3 linked regions of the Homo sapiens genome follow. The protein of the gene in region 2 interacts with the protein of the main gene of each other region in a biochemical or structural test. Each region holds a gene or a part of one and is shown on either strand. Other genes may lie near its edges.

The links. The genes of interacting proteins can lie anywhere in the genome.
Region 1: the proteins of SCGN (region 2) and ARFGAP2 form a complex in vitro, tested with the Homo sapiens proteins (one study listed by BioGRID).
Region 3: the proteins of SCGN (region 2) and TUBB3 form a complex in vitro, tested with the Homo sapiens proteins (one study listed by BioGRID).

Annotation. Positions count from the first base shown.
Region 1 is NC_000011.10:47,173,880-47,181,309, forward strand, and holds the start of ARFGAP2 (ADP-ribosylation factor GTPase-activating protein 2), read right to left. Parts: upstream 3,001-7,430; 5' UTR 2,975-3,000; coding exon 2,903-2,974; intron 2,756-2,902; coding exon 2,637-2,755; intron 2,045-2,636; coding exon 1,972-2,044; intron 1,435-1,971; coding exon 1,303-1,434; intron 1,220-1,302; coding exon 1,136-1,219; intron 37-1,135; coding exon of another isoform or gene 1-36. Other genes in the region: PACSIN3 (protein kinase C and casein kinase substrate in neurons protein 3), read right to left, coding at 4,052-4,167, 4,487-4,608, 5,015-5,151, 5,280-5,400, 5,532-5,707, 6,307-6,462, 6,576-6,811.
Region 2 is NC_000006.12:25,647,705-25,655,285, reverse strand, and holds the start of SCGN (secretagogin), read right to left. Parts: upstream 3,072-7,581; 5' UTR 2,883-3,071; coding exon 2,801-2,882; intron 1,905-2,800; coding exon 1,834-1,904; intron 1-1,833.
Region 3 is NC_000016.10:89,926,342-89,933,341, reverse strand, and holds part of TUBB3 (tubulin beta-3 chain), read right to left. Parts: intron 772-7,000; coding exon 663-771; intron 1-662. UniProt on the Homo sapiens protein: Tubulin is the major constituent of microtubules, protein filaments consisting of alpha- and beta-tubulin heterodimers. Microtubules grow by the addition of GTP-tubulin dimers to the microtubule end, where a stabilizing cap forms.

The DNA of each region.
Region 1 (7,430 bases), on a different chromosome or scaffold from region 2:
CTCCTGCTGGCAAGAAGCACCAAGACCTACAAGCACCTTGTGGACAAGAAATCATACTCCAAACCCATGAGGAAAGGGACTGGAGGGTAGCAAACAAGATCACAGTTGCTATTCACTGTGGAAGAAAGCAGGAAGACAAGCAGCCCCCACCCCAACCCCTTCACTATTTACTTAGAGCCAGAGCCCATTCTCCTAACTTAAAGACAGTTAACTACCACCACCTAGGCAGGCACAGATCTAAAGGCTCCTCATATATGAATATATTTAATTATCACTACAACCCCTATGAAGGAGCTACATCGCCATTTTAGAAACTGAGGTTTTGACAGGTTGAGTGACTTGGCCACCATCACAGGAATGCGGAGTAGAGAACAGGAATTGAAGCCAAGAGTCTAACTTCAGCACCCAGGGCCAGTAAAGAGGAAACCCTCCTCAAAGGGGTGGGGCGGGGAGGAGAGAATCCTTTCACTGTCCCCAAGCACAGTGCCTTTTTTTTTTTTTTTTTTTTTTTTTTTTTTTTTTTTTTTGAGACGGAGTCTCGCTCTGTCGCCCAGGCCGGACTGCGGACTGCAGTGGCGCAATCTCGGCTCACTGCAAGCTCCGCTTCCCGGGTTCACGCCATTCTCCTGCCTCAGCCTCCCAAGTAGCTGGGACTACAGGCGCCCGCCACCGCGCCCGGCTAATTTTTTGTATTTTTAGTAGAGACGGGGTTTCACCTTGTTAGCCAGGATGGTCTCGATCTCCTGACCTCATGATCCACCCGCCTCGGCCTCCCAAAGTGCTGGGATTACAGGCGTGAGCCACTGCGCCCGGCCCACAGTGCCTTTCTTATAGGGGAAGAATCCAGGAAAATTTGTTTGGGGCACCGGACACCTCTTGAAACTTCAAGAAGCTGCCTCTCTTCCCCGCCAGCCCAATTTATAGGAGTCGATTTCTAAGGAGGGCTACACTGCACCTCCATTTATGGAGGAGGAAACACCTAGGCCTACCCAGCAGGAACAGTGGACTTCATACGTGGTGTCCAAGACATCACATCAAAGCAAATGGAATCTACAACCATGATCACAGAAGGCCTGGGCCTTGGTAAATTGCCTGTCAAGAACAACTGGGAAAACGGTTCCTTGTGGGCACTCACTTGAGTGTGTTCTGTGAAGAAATCAGAGTCCTTCTTCTCTGGGGAGTGATTAGGAACGGCACTACTCATGTTGTCTATCCAAAGCTAGAAAGGAGAAGACACCCCTAAAACACAGGGCTCTGAATACTCCTAACCCTCCTGCCCCAGCCCCAAGAACAGGCACTTACATCAGTGCCATGCCTAGCCAGGGCCGCACTCCCCAGCTGCCGGATCTTCTCCCGGTACATCTGGGCAGCTCGGCTATTATATTTGGTGTTGGCATCATTGGCTGTGCATCCATGTTGGCGAAAAAAAGCCGTCTGGAGAGCAAAGAAGAGAGCAGCGCGTGCTACGGGTGATTCTCAAGAAGGAAACGTGTTGGCTGTAGGAGACATCTCCTTATGACAGCGAAGTTATTATCTATACAGGATGATACACGCTACTGACACCGGTTTTTCAGAGATAAAGTTTCTCGAAATTCCTGCAAAAAACACCTTGCAGCGGGCCATCCTCTGATATGACTGAAGTCCAGGCCCCACTGAACGCTGCCTGAGCACAACATCCCATACCCAGCCTCCCCATCCTTCATCCAGGGCAGGCCCACAAGACCCAATGACTGTGAAGGCTCCCAACTCCTGTGGCTTTTCCCCAAGAACACCTGCCCAGTTTAATTGGAATCTGAAACCCATTTAAGAGAAGCTGTGACCAGTTTCGAAGTTTTCAGAAAATAGCTTATGGTGGTGTTATAGAACAGAGAACCCTCTGAACAGGGAAAACGACAGGGCCTCTTAGGGAGTCGTGCAAAGTTAGTAACCAGGCAGAAGAATGGAAGGTGAGGGAAGTAGAAGGAGCTTTACCGCATTGGCATTCCCGCCGACCTGCATACACCTCAGCTGGAACCAGTTCCAGTTGGAATCCAACTCTGTGGACCTGTGTACAAGGGCTGCGTCTCACCCACTAGCAGATACCAGCAGGATTTCCCTGGCAACCCGGATACCTGTCACTTGGCCTCAGGCTGCTGTAGGCACCCAGGAAACATTAATCAGCCATCACCCCATTTCCTCCACACTACCCTGTCCATGAAAACTCTCCTCTTCGTTCATTTACTCCAAAGAGTACTAATTATGTCCCCAGATCCGAAAGGAGGTCACATTCTCAGGCACGCACGCCTGGATTTGGCTTTCCCCTAATGGATGGTCACAGTCTCACTAGAGACATACTGGTCTAACAACATATCAGCAACAACAAGGTCAATGCCTCCCTTTCCCCTCAACTAACGCTCAGAGTCTCAAGCCTGACCGTCAAAAAAGAGGAAGTTTTGGCCCAGAGGCGGAGACGGACCGCCCATGTGCCAAAGGGCCCACACAGGTGGTTCCCTCTGGCAGGAGGCTACCGGACCCTCTCGGCCCAGAGGCTTCCCACCGAATTCAGAGCGGCCCAAGTCGAGGCAGCCACTCTCCCTTGTTGCCCAGACACCCCTGGCCGGCCGGGTGGAAACACGGCAACCGCGCGGAGAGCCTACCTGATGAAGCTCAGATGGACGCCCAGGGAGCGGTGCACCCCGGAACAGTCAATGCACAAGAAAACACCGTACGTGATGCTGGCCCAACTCGGATTCTTGGCGCCGCAGTCGAAACAGGCCTGGGTGGAGGCGGCGATGAGCGAATCGTCAGGGGCCCCGAGTAAAGGCCAGGCACCGACACCCCAGAAACATAACCCACCTCCGCCCTTCTCCCTCCCTCAGGCCCCAGCGGGACGAGAGACTCCGCGCGCCCCCTGCTCACGCACCTTGTTGGTTGGAACTGCGCGAAGCCTCTTAAAAAGAGTCTGGATTTCGGTCTTGTTCGGCTCCGCCGCCATTTTCTCTCCTTCCCAGACACAACCGCGGCTGACGGGTCCCGCCGCGGGCCAATCCACGGCGGGGAGGGCGGGCTCACCAGGCCGGCCTCAGCGGTGCCTGGGCCAGCCGAGGGGTGGGGTGATTGGAGTCCGATCTGGACCAATGGGCAGCCGGCGGGACGGGGGCGGCGACGACAACCGCGGCCGCAAGAATCAACGCCGCGCCGGGCCAATCCGCAGCCGGGGCGGGGCGACGGCGCGCGGACCGGCCCAAACCTCCTCGCGCGCGTAGTACCCTTCCCCCCGCCCCTCCCACGCCGCAACCCCCAGGTGGAGTCGCCCCCACGCCGCGCAGGCTGCGGGAGGCTGGGGGCGGGGACCCCCACTCCAGCTAATTACAGATCGATGAATAAGGATTAGGCTGCCCAAACACTCCTCGTCCCTCCGGCCCGAACGGGCAGACGCATTGGCCCGCGTCTCGCCCAGCCTTCAGCCGTTCTCGGTTAACAGCAAGCCTGACAGCGAGTCCCCTCCACTCCAGATTAGTATCTCGAAGTTCCAGAGCAGGTACCAAGCAGGCAAACCCTTTTCCAACCCCGGCCCCATAACAGACGCTAGGCCTCTCTCTAGATGCCCTCTGGTGGCCTGGCAAGGGTGTCCTATCAAAAAAATGCACATGAGCCCGACAGTGGTGTTTTTGTTTTTGTGTGTGGGTGTGTGTCAAGTTTTAATACACGCTAGAACAAGCCACAAGAGGGTGCTGCTAGGCCAGAACTACACTCACCCCAAGCCCACCCCAGGAACCCCAAAGCAGAGGTCAGGAACTGAGTCCACAGCTCCTGGGGAGGCCCAGGCACCCCTGAACGCTTCTGTCACCTCTGACCTCCCATCTTGCCCTCAGCCTAGACTCGTCCCTTCCCTACCAGTCCCTTCCCTAGACAAAGGCCCCTCCCCTCCCTGGGTCCCAGGACTTCCTCCCTCAAGGGACAGAGGAGCAGCCAGAGAGCGACGGTTCAGGGCCCTGAGGGTCCGGCTCTCCAGGAGAAGCTGGGCTCTGAACCAGGGTGGGTAAACGTTGCAGAAGGGCTGTCAGGACACTCAGGCGCCCACACACTCCACGTAGTTGGCAGGGTACAGGCCAATGCGGCCACTCTGCAACTGGCCTTGGCACCAGCCCTGCTCGTCCTCCTCACTCATCTTCAGCAGCTCCTCCCCTGGGGGAAAGGGGATTGGTCACTGCCAGTGGCCCTGGCCCAGGCCCTGTTCCTGCAACTGGGTCAAGGACTGAGGGGGATGGTGTGGTCCCAGAGCCCAGCTAGCAAAGACATGGCTCAGGCAGAGGCAGGTCAAGGTCAGCAAGCTGCCCCACCCCAGACCCTGAATGCAGCCACCAGGCACCAGCTATCTGGACCTGGAACAGCTGAAGGGACAGAGGACTGGCCCTTAAGAAGTGGGTATTTGGCTTCCCTTTCTGACACCCCTGCTCAGGCAGATAAGGCAGAGGCTGAAGCTAGGAAAGGGGTCCCAGGGTACCTGCTCGGAAGCTCAGCTCATCAGCTTCCTGGCCAGCGTAGTCATAGAGTGCCCTCACCCGAACCCCGGTGGCAGCCTTCCGGGGACTCTCTTCATCTGACCACTCCTCATCCTGCCCCGTGCTGGAGAGGGGAGGCAAAGGGAGCAGCTCAGAGTGCAAGGAACACGGGGCTGGAGATCTCACCCAGGATCAGGGCAAAGGCCTCCCTACCCCCAGAGGCACCTGGGAGAGTCAGGTGAGGTACTAAAGATTCTAGCTCTACCTCGCCATGCCCGACTGTGAGCAAAGAGGCAATTCCTGCCACACGCAGCTGATTTAAGGCATAAACGAGAGGGAATGTGGGAAATGCCCAGCAAATCTAAACCACTATGAGAACCAGTATCATTACAACTACTAAGTAGGCCCTCAGGTCCCTGGCACCAATTTTCAACCCATTTCAGGTGTGAAAGAAATGAAACCAAGGAGAAAGGAAAGGAGGGCGGGAGGCAGAGCTGTTTCTTTGCCACAGCCGCGCTCCTGGCTCTCACCCTGGGGACCCCGGGGACTGGGGTGGGGGTGCGGTGCCATCTCTTGTAGGCACAATGCTGGTCAGGGTAACCTCATCAGGGCTCCGGCCACCCTTCTCTTTCCGGCTGATTGTCCTCTGTGTGTCCAAGGACCACTCCTGTGGGGACAGTGCTTATAGTCAGGTGGGGCCATCTGAACCACCTTCACTTACTTCATCCCTAGCCCTGGCCGAGCTGAGTGGGAGCCCATCCCACCTCCCATCCCCACCCCGCCTGGAACACATGCCTCGAACTGTGGCCAGTTCATGGCCATGCCTGGCCCGTGGGTGCTGCGCCACCAGCGCAGATCCTCTTCGTCACTGGCTGCCTCAATGCCCTGGTGCAAGTCACGGTGGAGTTCATGGAACCTATGACCCAAGGCACACCCCTCAGTCTAGGAAGTCTAGACCCTGCATCCCTCAGTCCCAGCCAGGGCCTCGGGGAGATGGAGGAGACCCAGTACTACCCCAGATCTCCATGCCCACCAGGCAGTTCATACTTCTCACTGCTGGAAAGGTCCAGGTGCTGGTGTAAGGTGAGCAGCATATCCTTGAAGAAAAGAAGCCGCTGGCGCTCGGCGGCCTGGCAGGTCTCAAAGGCCTGTTCCATGTCCTCCATGTAGCGTGGAGTGTAGCGATGCAGCTCTGCCAGCGTCTGCTCATACTGAGCTTTTGTCTGGGTGGGAGAGGAGGGGCCTGGTGAGAACCAGACCTTCTTCCACCCAGGACTCCACCAGTGTTTACCAGACACTGCCATAGGCTGCTAGACCCAGGGCTAGCCACTAGGGGCAATCAGTCCCAAGACCCAGCTCCTGCCCTCAAGGACCCCAGCAGCCTAACAAGGGAGGTGACATCAGGCACAGCATATAAAAGAGTCTGGTGAGGATTGAAATGAGGTCAACCTACAGGAAAGGATGGGAGAAATCAGAAAAGGCTTCCTGGAGGAGGTGGAAACTGCAGCATCTCAGGATGGGGAGGATTTGCATATCCAGAGCTGCAGGAAAGGACACTTCGGGCAAAGGGTACTGTGCAAGGAAAAGAGCTGGAAGTTCTCAACTGCTGAAGTCATCCCAGTGCCTGAAACTCCATTTCTTTCCCTAGTAAAGCATCACCTTTTGTCAGGTTCCTCCTTTAAATGATCATCTGGAGAGAGGGTGGCAGGTGAGGAATAGGGTAATAAGGGTGCTGGGGACTGGACAAGATGTTCAGGGAGCAAGATTCATTCAGGAAGCCGTGCCCTGGGCGGGGGCCAGGGCTGGGACCTGTGGCCTGTACCTTCTCGGCCTCCTTGGCACAGCGTTCCACCCGTTCCTGCAGTTTGCGCAGCTGCTCCTGGGAGACGGCGCTGTCTGCCTTTGCGTGGCTCTCCCTCGTCTGGGCGGTCTTCTCATCCTTCCGGGCTGCGTGGTAGCTTTTCTTGGAAGCCTCAACCTGGCATGCATGGAGACCACTCTGGACCCTGGATGCCACACCTTGGCCCCCTCGATCCCTTGCAAACAAACAGGAAGGAGCCTGTCTCGGATACCTCCCCCACCCAGCCTCACCTCCTTCAGCCTCTTCAGCCAGGGCTTCTGGGCCTTGCGGAAGCCGTCCTCGGCCGCCCGGCTCTCGCGGAAGCCGCCCAGCACAGGCCGGTGGAAAGCCCCCCGCTGCCAGGCGCGCACCCGCTCACTGTCCTGCCCTTGCAGCTTCTCCCGCACCTCCAGGTGCAGCGCGCTCAGCCGCTCAGCCGCCGTGAAAAAGGCATGCCAGGCCTTCTCCAGTGTGCCATACTGGGGGCCTGCAGGGAGGGACAGGGCTTAGGCCAGGCCTGGGTACCACCCAAAATGAGCCTAGCCCCTCTCACTGGGTGTGAGGCATGGAGGCATGGGGTACGCGCATGGGGTGCAAAGGTGAATGACAACCCTGTCAGCTGGGCTTATTGAATGAGGACCATGTGCCTTATCTCACTGACTCCTTGTCTCAGCCACCATCGTGAGGACAGCGACATTGCCAACATTGAACAGGCAAAACACTGAGGACCAGAGATGTGAACTCGCCCAAAGCATTATGGCTACAACAGGAGCTGAGGGCCGGGCACAGTGGCTCACTCCTGTAATCCCAGCACTTTGGGAGGCCAAGGCGGGTGGATCACAAGGTCAGGAGATCGAGACCATCCTGGCTAACACGGTGAAACCCTGTCTCTACTAAAACTACAAAAAATTAGCCGGGCATGGTGGCGGGCGCCTGTAGTCCCAGCTACTTGGGAGGCTGAGACAGGAAAATCACTTGAACCCGAGAGGGGGAGACTGCAGTGAGCTGAGATCACGCCGCTGTACTCCAGCCTAGGTGACAGAGCGAGACTCTATCTCAAAAAAAAAGAAAAAAAAGAGGAGCTGAGATTCAAACCCATCTCTGTT
Region 2 (7,581 bases):
AATTTTTCTCCTCCCTTTTATAAATGACTAGAACAAGGAGCCCTCTGAAAAGGTGAGAAGTTCCAGGTCCCTGAGGACAGATTTTTAGGAGCTGGCCATCCCATTTATTCCAAGATTTTGAATGGTTTTAACTTTGTCTTTTTGCTTTCCTCAAATACCCATGTCCATGATAGATAAGATGGGTTTCTGGAACACGATGAACCTTACATTTACAGATATAAGTAGAAGCCCTGTGGGCAAGGCTGGTGGGCTTCACCATGGGCTGCTAGCACGTGAAAGTGGCTGGCTAGATTGAAGCAGAAGCCTCACTTGGGGGAGGCTTCCTCAGCTCTACCTGTAGCTTGTGTAGGTACAAGAATGAAGGATAAAGAGGAGTGTGCGCAAGTGGTCTGACCAGAGGAAAGAAGGGACTTGTGTCTCTATCCTTCTCGTCTGCTGATCCTTTCACTTCACAGGCTGCACAGGGTAAGGGGTGGAGTGCAGGCAGACAAAGAGCAATAAAAGGTACAGAAAAAGGGAGATAAGAGACAAAGAAAAGGGTGAAGGAGAAAATGTGGAGAAAAGAAATGAAGGTCAAAAAGAGAGATGGGAAAGAAAGAAGAAAGGAGAAATAAAAGACATGGGGAGAGGAAAGACCAAAAGAGCTTTGAGAAGCAGAGAGACTGGAAAAAGAATGGGAAAACACAGAGACAGAGAGATGGAGAAACAAATGAGAAACAGAGACAAGAAAGATGGGCAACAGAGAGGTCAGAGAGAAAGGCAAGAAACAGTAGGAGATGAGAGCCATGAAACACAGAGATAAGAAACAGAAGTGAGCAGAAAAATGACAGAGATAGACATAAAAAAGAGAGACAGACAGAATATGAGAGGCAGACAGAAGTAGAGGGGGACCAAGAGATCTGTGTGGCTGAAGAAGGCGGAAGCCAGCCCTTTTGTTTCTGAACCAGCTTCCCCTGCCCCCCACATACCCTCCCCATGTTCTCAACAGTGGTGAAGAGCTCCTTGTTCCCTCACTGAGCTCTCACATGAGAATGTGATGCACTTCTATTCTTCAGATAAACAGCTGAATGATAAGGACAAACTATCTCCATCATTCATTTAAATTCAATTGTCCCTAGAGCGTCTCCTTCTACTATGAATGCCCTACTGGAGCTTTCATCAGATCGAGCCCATCCCCAGGCTGTCCTCCGCTCATGTGTTTCTGTGTAAAATTTTTCTCTGCTTTGATAGAGAGACTTTCAAGAGTTCATTTACATCTCCCAAGGACATATTTACCATCAGATGGACACTAGATAGATTGGCTTCCATTTGTATCTGGGCTCTGAGTATGCTGGTTGTTTTCTGGTTTGTCATTCCCTGAAAAATCTGTAACCTCTTCTAATAAAATGAATAATGGATAAATGATTTTAAATGGTTTGTGGTTTGCTATCAGAGGAGTATCATACATATTAAACACCCAAAATCTTAATGTGCTTAACATCTTTTCCAGCTTTTTGAACAAAGTGGGCTACTTTACCCCCAGGTATAAATCAATTAGCAGAGACATAACCAAGGAGACGTTCAAGACCAAGTTAACTGAGTCTACAGTTAGGATCTCTGAGTGGATGACAGATGTTACACTGAAAGTCAGTAACCAGCATGTCTAATGCTACAGTTGCACCTTTTATAAAAACTGCCTAAATCCCTCTATGTTGCTAGGAGAGGGGGAGAAATTACATACATGCAAGGAAGAAAGGAGGTGAGTTGGAATTAATAGGTACCAATCAATATAAGACTTGGATGTGCGTATCTTACTAAGAGGCATAAATTAAGGCTTAGTGTGCAAGTACTTACATCAGTACCCAGTTTCATCAACATGTGGAGAAAGAAAGCATCGAGTTCCTTCTCTTCTATGTAACCTTTTTCTAAATGTGAGAAAATAAACATAAATAATACTAACATATAAAAAACACATGACAGTATTTATCTAAATATGTTTTTAATCTCACAATTCATAAAGCTTCCCTCAACACTATTTTTTGTTATTCCAATAACAAAGTGCCAACACCTACCTCTAGAATACATGGGTTTGAACAGTAAACACTGTTCCAGAATACGTGCTTTATGCTAGGGTTTATATTAGTGCTTGGAAAAGGAAGGCTATTAAGTACATGAATTTTAATCAATGAATAAACGTGAACTTTCCAATAAAATTTAACCCCAAAATTTCTGAAGCTTGGAGAAACTTAACAGGTGTAAGTATTGAATCCCAGTTTGCAGAGTTAAAACACACCTTTTAGATATTTTATTTCTTTATTAATAAAAACAAATATTAAGTAGTTCCATTTTATTTTCAAGTAGTTTTTTGGTGGAGGAGTCGTTTTGAAAGCTGATAAAATTTATTCTCATTTTGAGAGAGTGAGGGGTGTACAGCAAAGTCACTGCGTAAAAGTGAGCCCATTTAGGGAAGGATGACTTCAAATAGCTGAGTCTCAGCCCACAAGCCTTGAACATATACAATGATATTAGTCATTGTATATACAATATATATGTATGTCTACCATATATATGGCGCGCTCGCACACAAAGAGAGATTGGAAAGGGGAAAGTGGAAATTCACCACCCAGAATTTTAACAAGGTATATAGATGTGTATCACCAGTATGCCAAACGTCTGTTAATGATACTGTATTAGGTACACTGCATTAACAACCCAGGTCGATAACTTTTCCTACAGTAAAGGGGAAACTCCAGGTCCTTTCAGCGGGCTGAGCTTGGAGCCACGTCTACACCTGAGTGTGCAAGTGGCTTGTTCTACTCACCATCCGCATCAAAGCGCTGCCAGACCTGCCAGAAGCCAGCGGCGTCCAAGCGCCCCAGAGTCGGTTCCCGGGAGCTGTCCATGGTGTTGACGACGAAGACCAGGCACCGGCGCGGAAGGACCTAGACAACTTTGGGAAGGACTCCTTCACCGTATTTCTTGACTTGCTCTCCTGCTTCTTTCGCTATCTGATTAGCTTTGAGTAACTGTTGCTGGGGAGGACGCGAGCGCTGCTGGCCGTGGCGTCGCTGAGCCGTCCCTCAGCCCTCAGCAAAACCAGCGGCTGGAAGCCCGCCCCGCTCCTGGCGCGCCTGTCCCCGCCCCGCCCTGCGCGCTGTCCTGGCAGATCCTGTCTGTCTCTGCGCTTTGGGGAATTCAGGAAGAAAGAAACTGTCTCCAGGCGTCCACGGCTCACTGCTTTTGCCCTTTAACTTGCTTCTCAGACTCGGAGAAGACATCCCTCTTACGTTTGACTCACTTTCCAAACTTGTGTCTCAAGGGGTTTTCTAGGGAGAGCTGCCTCATTTAAAGGGTTGCAAGAAGTGTCAGTGTTAGGGTCCTTTGGACTTGAGGATTTAGAAATGTAGTGTGTGGAGAGGGGAGGCGAGAAGGGATGGTGATGGTGGTAAGTGGTTCCCTTTAAGGAAGAAGTCAACAGCAATTATTGAGTCCTGATTGTATAGGACATACACATTGCTGTACCAAAATGCACTATAAGGACTTGCAACTAAACAGGGATACTGCAAGTCACTGTGATTTAAAGTAGCATCATTAGGATGCTGAGGAAAATATAAACTAAGCCGTACTCTGCCAGGAAAAGAGAGTCTGGGGGAGATGTGTCTGCCTGCAGGGTACTTAGGTAGAAGGCTTAGATGATTGTGTTTGGCTCCTAAGAGCCACATTAAGACCAAAGGATAAAAATCAGTTGGAGGAACACAGAGCTTTCTAACAATCAGGACTGTTCAAAATTGGGCAAGGCTTTGTGGAAACGTGTACAAACTACACTGATACCTTTTGACTATATATTTAGAAATTTTCGTTGGATAATCTATAGAAAGTGCTTGGATATTAGATAAGAAAGTTGAACCAGATGTAACTTTTCTTTATGGCACCCTGACTCTGGTTTTAGCATTCAGATTTATTTATAAAAAGCATGCATGTATAAGTCATCTAAACCAGAGTAGTGAAAAGAACATGACACTCAAGGTCAGATAGTCCTGGGTCAGGATCTGAGTTCCATTATTTACCAGCTTTGTGAACTGCACCATTAGTTCTCATCTCCCTAAGCCTCAATTTTCTTATCTATAAAATGAGGATTAAAACATCTGTTTTGGAGGGTTGCTGTGAGGATCAGAACCATACATAGTAATGCACAATGAATTATATCTGCTATGGTGTTGTAGCTGATGAGGGATGACTCTGTTAGAGAAAACAAGTAAAGTCTAAGAGATTGTCATAGCCAAGAGGAACCTAATGAAAAATGACAAAGAAATGTAATGTTTTATCCTGGGTGTGATGCCGGAACAGAAAAAGGCCATTAGGTAAAAATTAAGAAAATTTTAATAAACACGGACTTTAGTTAATAATAATGAAAAAAATGGTTCAGAAGAAAACAGTTCTGGGTTCAGGGCCCAGCTTTGCCTCTTACTAGTTGTGTGTGATATTGGGCAAGTTACTCAAAAGAAGCCTCACTTTCTTTGTAAAATGGGAATAATAGTAGTATTTACCCCGTGTTATTATCATAAAGGTCAAATTAAAAAATCATATAAACCTATTGTCACAGTATATACAGTAACATTCAGTGTAAGTTAGCTACTAAAATGATGAATCTTCCATACATACATACATATTTGGAAGACGGTGAAGTAAACTTCAGGATTTTTGAGGAGTGTGGCTTAGCCTAAAGGAAGAAAAGCAGTATTATCACCGATTAAGCAAGTGCTGGTTACAAAAATTGGAGAAAAGCATATGTAGCATAGGAGGGTGTAAGGGTTCAGTATCTGTAATTATCATCTGTGACTTTAGGAAATTAGTGGATACAATGTCAAGCACCAGTTAGGAAAAGTAATTGGTATGAACCCACCAGGGCTGATCTTGTTTTCTGATAAATAGTGGAAAAAGATAAAACAAGGCAGATTTCAGAAGTAATAATCAAGATCTAATGTGGAGGGATGGTTAAATAAATGATAGTAAATATCTATGATGGGCTTTGCTGCATACACAGAAATCTTGATTTTGAAGCTTGATGATCCAGAAAACTCAAAACATAAGGTTAAGATTAAAAAGCAAGTTACAAAAGTGTACATATATGATGACTCAATTCTGTAAAATAAAATACATGTTTCTACACATAGAAAACATGGAAGATATACATTAATGACATTAATGATATGTTTCTCTGGAGTGGGGAAGAGGGAGGCTCACAGATGATTTCAATTTTGCTATTTGTAATTCTTTTGTCTTAAAACTTTGTGCAGTAAGCATATAATGCAAGCTATTATACTTTTTTAAAGTTGTAAAAGTGAAATCTAGGGAAAGAAGAGGAAAAGTACAGCCGCAAAGATTACTGTTCTCAGGACTGGAGAACAAACAGAACTTGGAACACTTTCCAGGAGCCTGTCATCTGGAGCTCTCTGGGGAGCTGCAATCTCCATTCAATGACTTATTTCCTGTTTTCTTTGCATCCAAATATTTATCATGGCACTGGGTAGGGAGATACTGCTTAGGAATCCTGCATTCCCTCATAAAAGTTTCTCTTTGAGAAAATCATCCAAGCCCTTAACAGAGAAGAGAGCCAGTAGGAAGGTATTTAAAGATCCTACAGGAGACACCTGTAAGACTGTCTCATTGGGAAAGTTCTCCTGCCTAAAAATGGAGTGATGGAGGTGGGGATGAAAGAACCAGAGGTGGTTTATCAGAGTCCCTTCCTGTCCAAAAAGAGAACTCAGAGTAAAGCAAATATTCAGCAGCTGGAATCAAGTTGAAATACATTTTGCATCTTATGGATTAATTAGCACCTTCCACAGAGATTCTGATTTAAATGGTTTGGAGAAAGACCTCTATGCTGATATTTTTTTAAGTGTTCCCCTAGGGATTACACTAGAACCACTGACGAACCTTTTGTCTATAAGTTTCCTGCTGCTCATATTCTGGTCATTTTATTATTTAGGTATGGCATCTCTGAAGGATAATCGAGAAAAGAAAAAACTTCTAAAGAATTAACATTACTTTCTTATTAATACACTGCCTCTTTCAAAGAGAGGTTAGAATTTATACTTATATGTAATCCTGGTAAGTTTTGACAATTGATGGCTGAAACTAGAGACTAAAATCAGTTGTTTTTCTTTTTTCCCTACTGATTTCATTTTCTCCTGCAATCATTTCCTGCTTTTCTCATTAGCATAGCTAATTGATGGTTAGTTGCACAAGAAGAGGCAGTGGTCTGTAATTTGAAGCATTGCTAATTAACTCTGATGCATCCATTCAATTTTAAGCTAAAATATCTGCATCTTTTTACAAACTCAGAATGATATTTCTAACTGGAAATATAAACAATACTCATCTTCATATGTTGTTGAACATTCAAGCTCTGTAGACATCTCACAGACTGTATAGTAGACCTTAGAATTCAAAGAGACAGCCTTGGTTTAAAGCCACACCAGTTCCAAAGGGCCATGCAAGCAGAACAAAAGAAATTGGACAGTGGTTTTCATAAGATAATAAGAAAACACTAGAAATAGAGTTATTTTTAAAATATATACATTTTACTGTTTCCTTTGCAATCACATGAATAGTACAGATAATTTAAACAATATAGATTAGAAAAACTACAAAACAAGAAAGAAAACTTTCTTCCATAATTTTGACATCTAGAGATAACTAGCAATAATAACATATGGGTTTATGTCCTTACAGTAATTTTTTATATGCAGAAAAAGTAGATTATACTGCTCTGTAACTTGCTCATTTCACTTAATATTATGAAGCATGTCATTAAATATTCTTCTATGATATTATTTTAATGTCAGTATTATCATAATTTATTTAATATCCTCTTTTTAGACTTTTCAATTGTCCCTAGGTTTTCACTATCATAAACCTCTGCTGTTACAGCTAAATGTTTGCACACTCTAGTAATTATTTCTTCGGGATAAAGTTCTAAATGCACAAGTGCTGGGCTAAACAATGTATAACATCGTAAGTCTTTATAACATAAGGTTAAAAGTGGTCTCCAGCTGAATTTTACTGATTTATACTGCTATTAGCAGTGGAAGAGATACCTTTTTACACCATTACTAACAATAAAAATAAAAATCTTTGAATAGTTTAAAGTAGTAGTTAATAGTGATTTTATAGGTGGTTGTTTGGGGTAATTTGGGATTTTTTAAGAGGTGGGCTAAGTGTTAAAGTTAAAAGCCTATCACACTCAAGTGGCTCTTCAAAATTTCTTGTCCTCTCTCCCCTTCCTACCCCACAGAACATAGCATCTGGCACTGTGTCTTGCAAACAGTGACTATTTAGTATTCTATATTACCCCAATGATACCATCTTTTCTTAAGGAGTTGATATCACTAAATTATGAAAGAAGATTTTTGTAACCTGTACTAAAGCACAAAACCAGTGCTTTAAAAGCTCTAGGTCTGTTAAAGTAAGTTGAAACTGTAAATATTTTTCCAGCCACTTATACAGCCATCTTCTTACAAACTTAATAATACAAATGCATAGTGTAGCTTTTAAAATTTATTTTCTTCCTATTTTTCCCCTTCTGGGTCTACATTCCTA
Region 3 (7,000 bases), on a different chromosome or scaffold from region 2:
AGAGTCCTGGACCAAAGGCAAGCTTCAGCAACTTTCTTCACCCTTAAGCCTCACTGTGTTTAAGGACGGAGCAGGACAGGACGGAGCAGGACAGGCAGGATTCAGTCAGACGTCCACCAGATGCAGGGGCTCGTGTCTGCACTCCCAACACTTTGGGAGGCCAAGGCAGGTGGATCGCTTGAGTCCAGGAGTTCGAGACCAGCCTGGGCAACATATCGAGACTGTCTCTATTAAATTAAATAAAATTTTAAATCACATGTCCATGTGGGCAGGTGGGTGTATCACCACTTTGATATGGAAATCACTTCACACCAGTTGCTAAAGAGCCCCTGACTAAGCCCTCCAGGTGACCCCTTCTCTAGGCCCTCTTATGGCCTCCAAAGTCTCTGGCCTGCCCCATCCCTGTCTGTGCCCCTGGACACGCACAGGCCCTCATGGCACTAATATGTTTGGCTCTCACTTTTGTGACTGTGATTTATTGTCTGTTCTGTGCGTCTGGATGCCTGACATCCAGTTACGCCTGCTGGCATCTCAGCCAACCTAACCCATGGGAGGACAGAGATGCTGAGAGCTGGTGAGTCCAGGTGCTGAGACCTGGTCAGTCAGACGCTGAGACCTGGTCAGTCCAGGGCTGGGATAGGGAGGCTGGGGCAGGCACTCACAAGAGGCCTCGTTGTAGTAGACGCTGATCCGCTCCAGCTGCAAGTCCGAGTCGCCCACGTAGTTGCCGCTGGGGTCGATGCCATGCTCATCACTGATGACTTCCCAGAACTGCAAACAAAGTGGGAGAGGGGGGGTCGGCACCGGCCCATAGCCCCAGCCAGGCCCTTTCCCTTGTGAAGCCTTTTAGCCCTCACTACAAAATTAGGGCTTTTGACCCACGGCCTCCACGAGCCCCATTCAGAAGAGAGCCCCACACTCTGTTACCTGTCAGAAAATTGCCATAATAAATATGCACCTCCACACCTACACGTCCAGGCCGACCACAGCCCCAGGGTGGGCCAAGGTTCAACAGACCCACACCCAGGTCCCCAGGCCCAGCTGTGCAGCTGCTGGCAAGGGCCTGGAGCAGCGGATTCCTCCATGAAGGGCATTGGTAATAAACACCTTGAGGGTTAGTTTTTACTATCCCCTCTTTTCAGGAAAGGGAACTGAGACACAGAGCGGGTAGAGACACCCACAGTAGCTGGCAGAGCAGGGTTCAGAGGCCCAGAGCTCAGGATCGCTTTTGGCTGCTACACCTGCCCCTCCATGGGAGAGCAAACCATGTCCAGTGATGGTGCCAGGACATTACTGGCCTCAGCTGACGGGACTCACAGGGACTCTGAGAGCCAGTCTCATCGGGGACCCCCAGCTGGGTCTGCAGAAGGGTCCTTGGGGTCCCAAATGGGAAGCGACTTGCCTGAGGTCACCCAGCCTGTCCGTGTGAGGCTGGCATCGTCTCAGCTCCCAGGGGTCGTCCTCTCTCTACCTGCCACCTCCACCTCTCTCCCCCTAGAGCAGGTGCCTGCAGTGCTTCTCGGACTCTGCTCCCATGACAGCTGCCGAGCGGAGCCTAGACTCAGGGGCTGGGCCTGCTGGGTTCACAGACGCTTCCCTCACCCTTCCCAGCTGTGTGACCTTGCACAGGTCACTAGGATTCCGTGTCTCAGTGTCCTCATCTGTACAATGGGCACGATGACAGGAGGTCTTTTTGAAATGAAAGTGGGTTAATCTGTGTGAGGCATATAAATGGTATATGGCAAACGTAGAACTATCTATCTGTGTGCACACGGAGAACCACACCCCTGGGTGAGAGCAAGCCCTTCAGGGAAGTTGCCACCTCATCGTGGGACACGCTCTGATGGCCGAGGCCGCTGCGTCTGGGAGCAGTGTCTGCAGGCAGCAGGCCTCCTGGGACACACGCTGGGAGGCTTCCCAGGGCTGCCTGACCTCTCCCAATGCCCCTTGCCCTTACTCCTCAGGAGTGACTTTTAGATGAGCTGACGGGTATGAAGGCCTCAAGAAACAAGGGGCTCTACATGTGAGTCATGTGCTGCAGAAGATTCCTCAAGAAAAAAGCAGGTTAGAAAACAATTTGGTGGGGCCGGGCACAGTGGCTCATGACTGTAATCCCAGCACTTTGGGAGGCTGACGTGGGAGGACCCCAGGAGTGTAGACAAAGATGCGCTTTGGAATGGAGACACAGGAGATGTGTTTTAAGATGCCTCTAGTAGGCCAGGTACAGTGGCTCATGCCTGTAATCCCAACACTTTGGGAGGCCGAGGCGGGTGGATCACGAAGTCAGGAGATCGAGACCATCCTGGCTAACATGGTGAAACCCCGTCTCTACTAAAGATACAAAAAATTAGCCGGGAATGGTGGCGGGTGCCTGTAGTCCCAGCTACTCGGGAGGCTGAAGCAGGAGAATCACTTGAACCCAGGAGGTGGAGCTTGCAGTGAGCTGAGATCATGCCATTGCACTCCAGCCTGGGCGACAGAGTGAGACACCATCTCAAAAAAAAAAAAAAGATGCCTCTCGTAAAGGGGTGACTTTAGTGGAAACTGCTGTGCAGGAGGCAGGACTGGGTGGTAGCAAGCATGAGAAGCATGAGTCTAGGAATTCATATCAAGACCCCATCTCAAAATAAATAAATAAATAGAGGCCAGGTGCGGTGGCTCACGCCTGTAATACCAACAATTTGGGAGGCTGAGGTGGGCAGATCACCGGAAGTCAGGAGTTCGAGACCAGCCTGTCTCTACTAAAAATACAAAAATTAGCCAGGGGTGGTGGCTCACACGTTCCAGCTACTCCGGAAGCTGAGGCAGAAGAATTGCTTGAACCCAGGAGACGGAGGTTGCAGTAAGCCAAGATTGCACCACTGTACTCCAGCGTGGGCGACAGAGTGAGACTCTGTCTCATAGAATAATAATAAATAAATAGAAACAAAACCACTCATAGCTGGGCACGGTGGCTCACCCCCATAATCCCTGCACTTTGGGAGGCAGAGGCGGGTGGGTCACGAGGTCAGGAGTTCGAGACCAGCCTGGCCAACATAGTGAAACTCCATCTCTCCCAAAAATACAAAAATTAGCCAGGCATGGTGGCGCGCACCTGTACTCCCAGCTACTCGAGAGGCTGAGGCAGGAGAATTGCTTGAACCCAGGAGGCAGAGGTTGTGGTGAGTCGAGATCGCGCCACTGCACTCCAGCCTGGGCAATAGTGCGAGACTGTCAGAAAGAAAGGAAGGAAGGAAGGAAGGAAGGAATGAAGGAAGAAAGAAAGGAAAGAGAGAGAGAGAGGAAGGAAGGAAGGAAGGAAGGAAGGAAGGAAGGAAGGAAGGAAGGGGAGAAAACTGCTTGTGCCAGGCACGGTGGCTCACGCCTGTAATCCCAGTACTTTGGGAGGCTGAGGCAGTGGATCATCTGAGGTCAGGAGTTCAAGACCAGCCTGGCCAACATGGCAAAACCCTGTCTCTACTAAAAATACAAAAATTAGCCAGGCGTGGTGGCGAGCACCTGTAATCCCAGCTGCTTGGGAGGCTGAGGCGGAGAATCACACGAACTCGGGAGGTGGAGGTTGCAGTGAGCTTATGTCATGCCACTGCACTCAAGCCTGGGCAACAGAAGGAAACACCGTCTCAAATAAAAGAAAGAAAGAAAACTGCTTGTGGGTGCTTCTCTATGCGTGGGTGCCTCTGGTAGATGTGTGGAAGGCTGTGCCTGGGGAGGGGCCCCAGACTGGGAGGAGCTTCTTCTCACGGGTGCCCTGTGGTCTTGTTGAGATTTTCTCACGTGCACACGGTAGCTTTTCAAAGAAAATTTGTTAAAAATAAATGTTTTTAAAACCTTAAGAATAAACATAGTGTAATTATTGTAACGCGGACAGCATGGACATGGACCACCTCTGCTAACAGTGTCTCGGGATGCCCGTTCACCCTGAGACTGTTATCAGAGGTGCCCGTTCACCCTGAGACTGTTATCAGAGGTCATCTCTCCACAAAGGTCAGGGGTGGATTTCTTTCCATCTTTTGTGCATTTTTGTTATTGCTAAGTTTTATTCTTTTTGCGTTAAATTTTTAAATTACAAAAATGATTCAGGCTGGGTGTGGTGGCTCATGCCTATAATCCCAGCACTTTGGGAGGCTGAGGCAGGCAGATCACTTGAAGTCAGGAGTTCAGGACCAACCTGGACAACAGGGCAAAACCCTGTCCCTACTAAAAATACAAAAATTAGCCGGGCGTGGTAGCGCGCACCTGTAATTTCAGTTGTTTCAGAGTCTGAGACACGAGAATCGCTTGAACCCAGGGGGCAGAGGTTGCAGTGAGCTGAGATCAAGCCACTGCACACCAGCCTGTGGGACAAGAGTGAAACCCTATCTTAAAAAAAAAAAAAAAAAAGGCCGGGCGCGGTGGCTCACGCCTGCAATCCCAGCACTTTGGGAGGCCAAGGCGGGTGGATCACGAGGTCAGTAGTTCGAGACCAGCCTGACCAACATGGTGAAACCCCATCTCTACTAAAAATACAAAAATTAGGCCAGACGCAGTGGCTCACGCCTGTCTGTGGTCCTAGCACTTTGGGAGGCCGAGGTGGGCGGATCATGAGGTCAGGAGATCGAGACCATCCTGGCTGGCACAGTGAAACCCTGTCTCTACTAAAAATACAAAAAATTAGCCAGGCGCGGTGGCGGGCACCTGTAGTCCCAGCTACTTGGGAGGCTGACTCAGGAGAATGGCGTGAACCTGGGAGGCGGAGCTTGCAGTGAACCGAGATTGTGCCACCGTGCTCCAGCCTGGGCAACAGATAGAGACTCCGCCTCAAAAAAAAAAAAAAAAAATTAGCCAGTGTGGTGACGGGTGCCTGTAATCCCAGCTACTCAGGAGGCTAAGGCAGGAGAATTGCTTGAACCCAGGAGGTGGAGGTTGCAGTGAGCCGAGATCACTCCACTGCACTCCAGCCTGAGTGACAGAGTGAGACTCCATCTCAAACAAACAAACAAAAAAATCAGCTGGCCATGGTGGCTCATATTTATAATCCCAGCAGTTTGGGAGGCCAAGAGAGGTGGATCACTTGAGTCCAGGAGTTCAAGACCAGCCTGGGCAACATGGTGAAACCCTGTCTCTACCAAAAAACAAAAAAATTAGTTGGGCATGGTGACGCATGCCTATAGCCCCAGCTACTCAGGAGGCTGAGGTGGGAGGATCACTTGAGCCAGGGGGGTGGAGGTTGCAGTGAGCCTAGATCATGCCAGTCCAGGCGACAGAGTAAGAGCCTGTCTCAAAAAAAAAATACAGAAAGGTCCCTGAGGCATTTGGGGCTTGTCCAAGCTTCCCACCTACTGCTTGCCTCCCTAACACTCTCTTTGAGGATCCCCCATTAATTTAGTTGCTGGCAGTCCACTTGAGTCGGGGACCTTGCTCCCCAAAGCACTGGGACACCCCAAATTTATGGTTCCAGGGAACCCACAACCACCAGCCCCTGTAAAGGAGGGGTGGAGAGAGTAACACATCTATGGGAAGTCCTCTGCAGAGCGAGGCACAGGGCAGCAGGAGCAATGGAGCAGAGTGGATTCAAGACCCAGCACGAGCACAGCTGTGGGCCAGGCGCGTGCCTCGCAGGACCTGTTTTCTCATCTGTGAGATGAACGTGTGAATGGTGCCCACATCCAGGCCTTAGCACAAAGCTTGACATGAAAACATTCAGCACATGTTGGCTTCATTTTGTTCAAATGTTTTAGATACTATTTAAAGTTTTAAAACCATATGCACAGGTCACTTAAAAAAAATGGACCAGAAGGATAGAAAAAGAAATTTGTTCCCACTTGGATAGAGAGAGGTGGCTAGATGGGCACCAGGTTTATCTGCAATATTTAAGGTTTTTTTTAACCAGGAGAATATATTAATTGCTTTTGTAGTTAAAATTAATAAAATTATAATTTGAGATAAAGTAATAAAATATATTGTTCCTTTTTTTTTTTTAGATAGGGTCTTGCTCTATTGCCCAGGCTAGAATGCAGGGGCATGACCTCAGCTCACTTTAACCTCTGCCCACCTCCCCCAGGTGATCCTCCCACCTCTGTCTCCCAAGTAGCTGGGACCACAGGCCGGCGTGCCTCCATGTCCAGCTAATTTTTTTTGTTTTTTATTTTTTGTAGGCACGGAGTCTTGCCATGTTGCCCAGGCTGGCCCTGAAGTGCTGACCTCAGGTGATCCACCCACCTCGGCCTCCCAAAGTGCTGGGATTACAGGTGTGAGCCACCGCACCTGGCCTATGTTACATATTTAATAAACAATAAAATATAATTTTATAAACTAAATTGTTAACATCACTACAGAAAAGGAAATCGGCCCGGCGTGGTGGCTCATGCCTGCAATCCCAGCACTTTGGGAGGCTGAGGCAGGTGAATCACCTGAGGTCAGGAGTTTGAGACCAGCCTGACCAAGATGGAGAAACCCCATCTCTAGTAAAAGTACAAAATAAGCCAGGTGTGGTGGCGGGCGCCTGTAATCCCAGCTACTCAGGAGGCTGAGGCAGGAGAATAGCTTGAACCCAGGAAGTGGAGGTTGCAATGAGCCGAGATCGCGCCACTGCACTCCAGCCTGGGCAACAAGAGCCAAACTCCATCTAAAAGAAAATAAGAAAAAAGGAAAATTGTGGCCAGGCGTGGTGGTGAGCGCCTGCGGTCCCAGCTACTCGGGAGGCCGAGGCTGCAGTGAGCCGAGATCGCGCCTCTGGACGCCAGCCCGGGCGACAGAGCCAGGCCTCCTCTCATAACCAAAAACAAAAACCTGGAAACACAAAGCAGAACCCGGCGTTCGAGGCCAGGCGCTCGGCCCGGGCGCTGTCCTTGGTGCTGACCTCGCGCAGCGCTTGGGGTCCTGGGGAAAGCGGGGCCGGGCTTTGAGGGCAGTGGCCAAGGCAGGTGGGAGCGGGGGTCCCCGATGAAGGGGCTGCGAGACTGGGGCCTCCAAGCCCCTCCAGGACCCGAATGCGGTTCCCGCCCGGCCCGCGGCTCCGCAG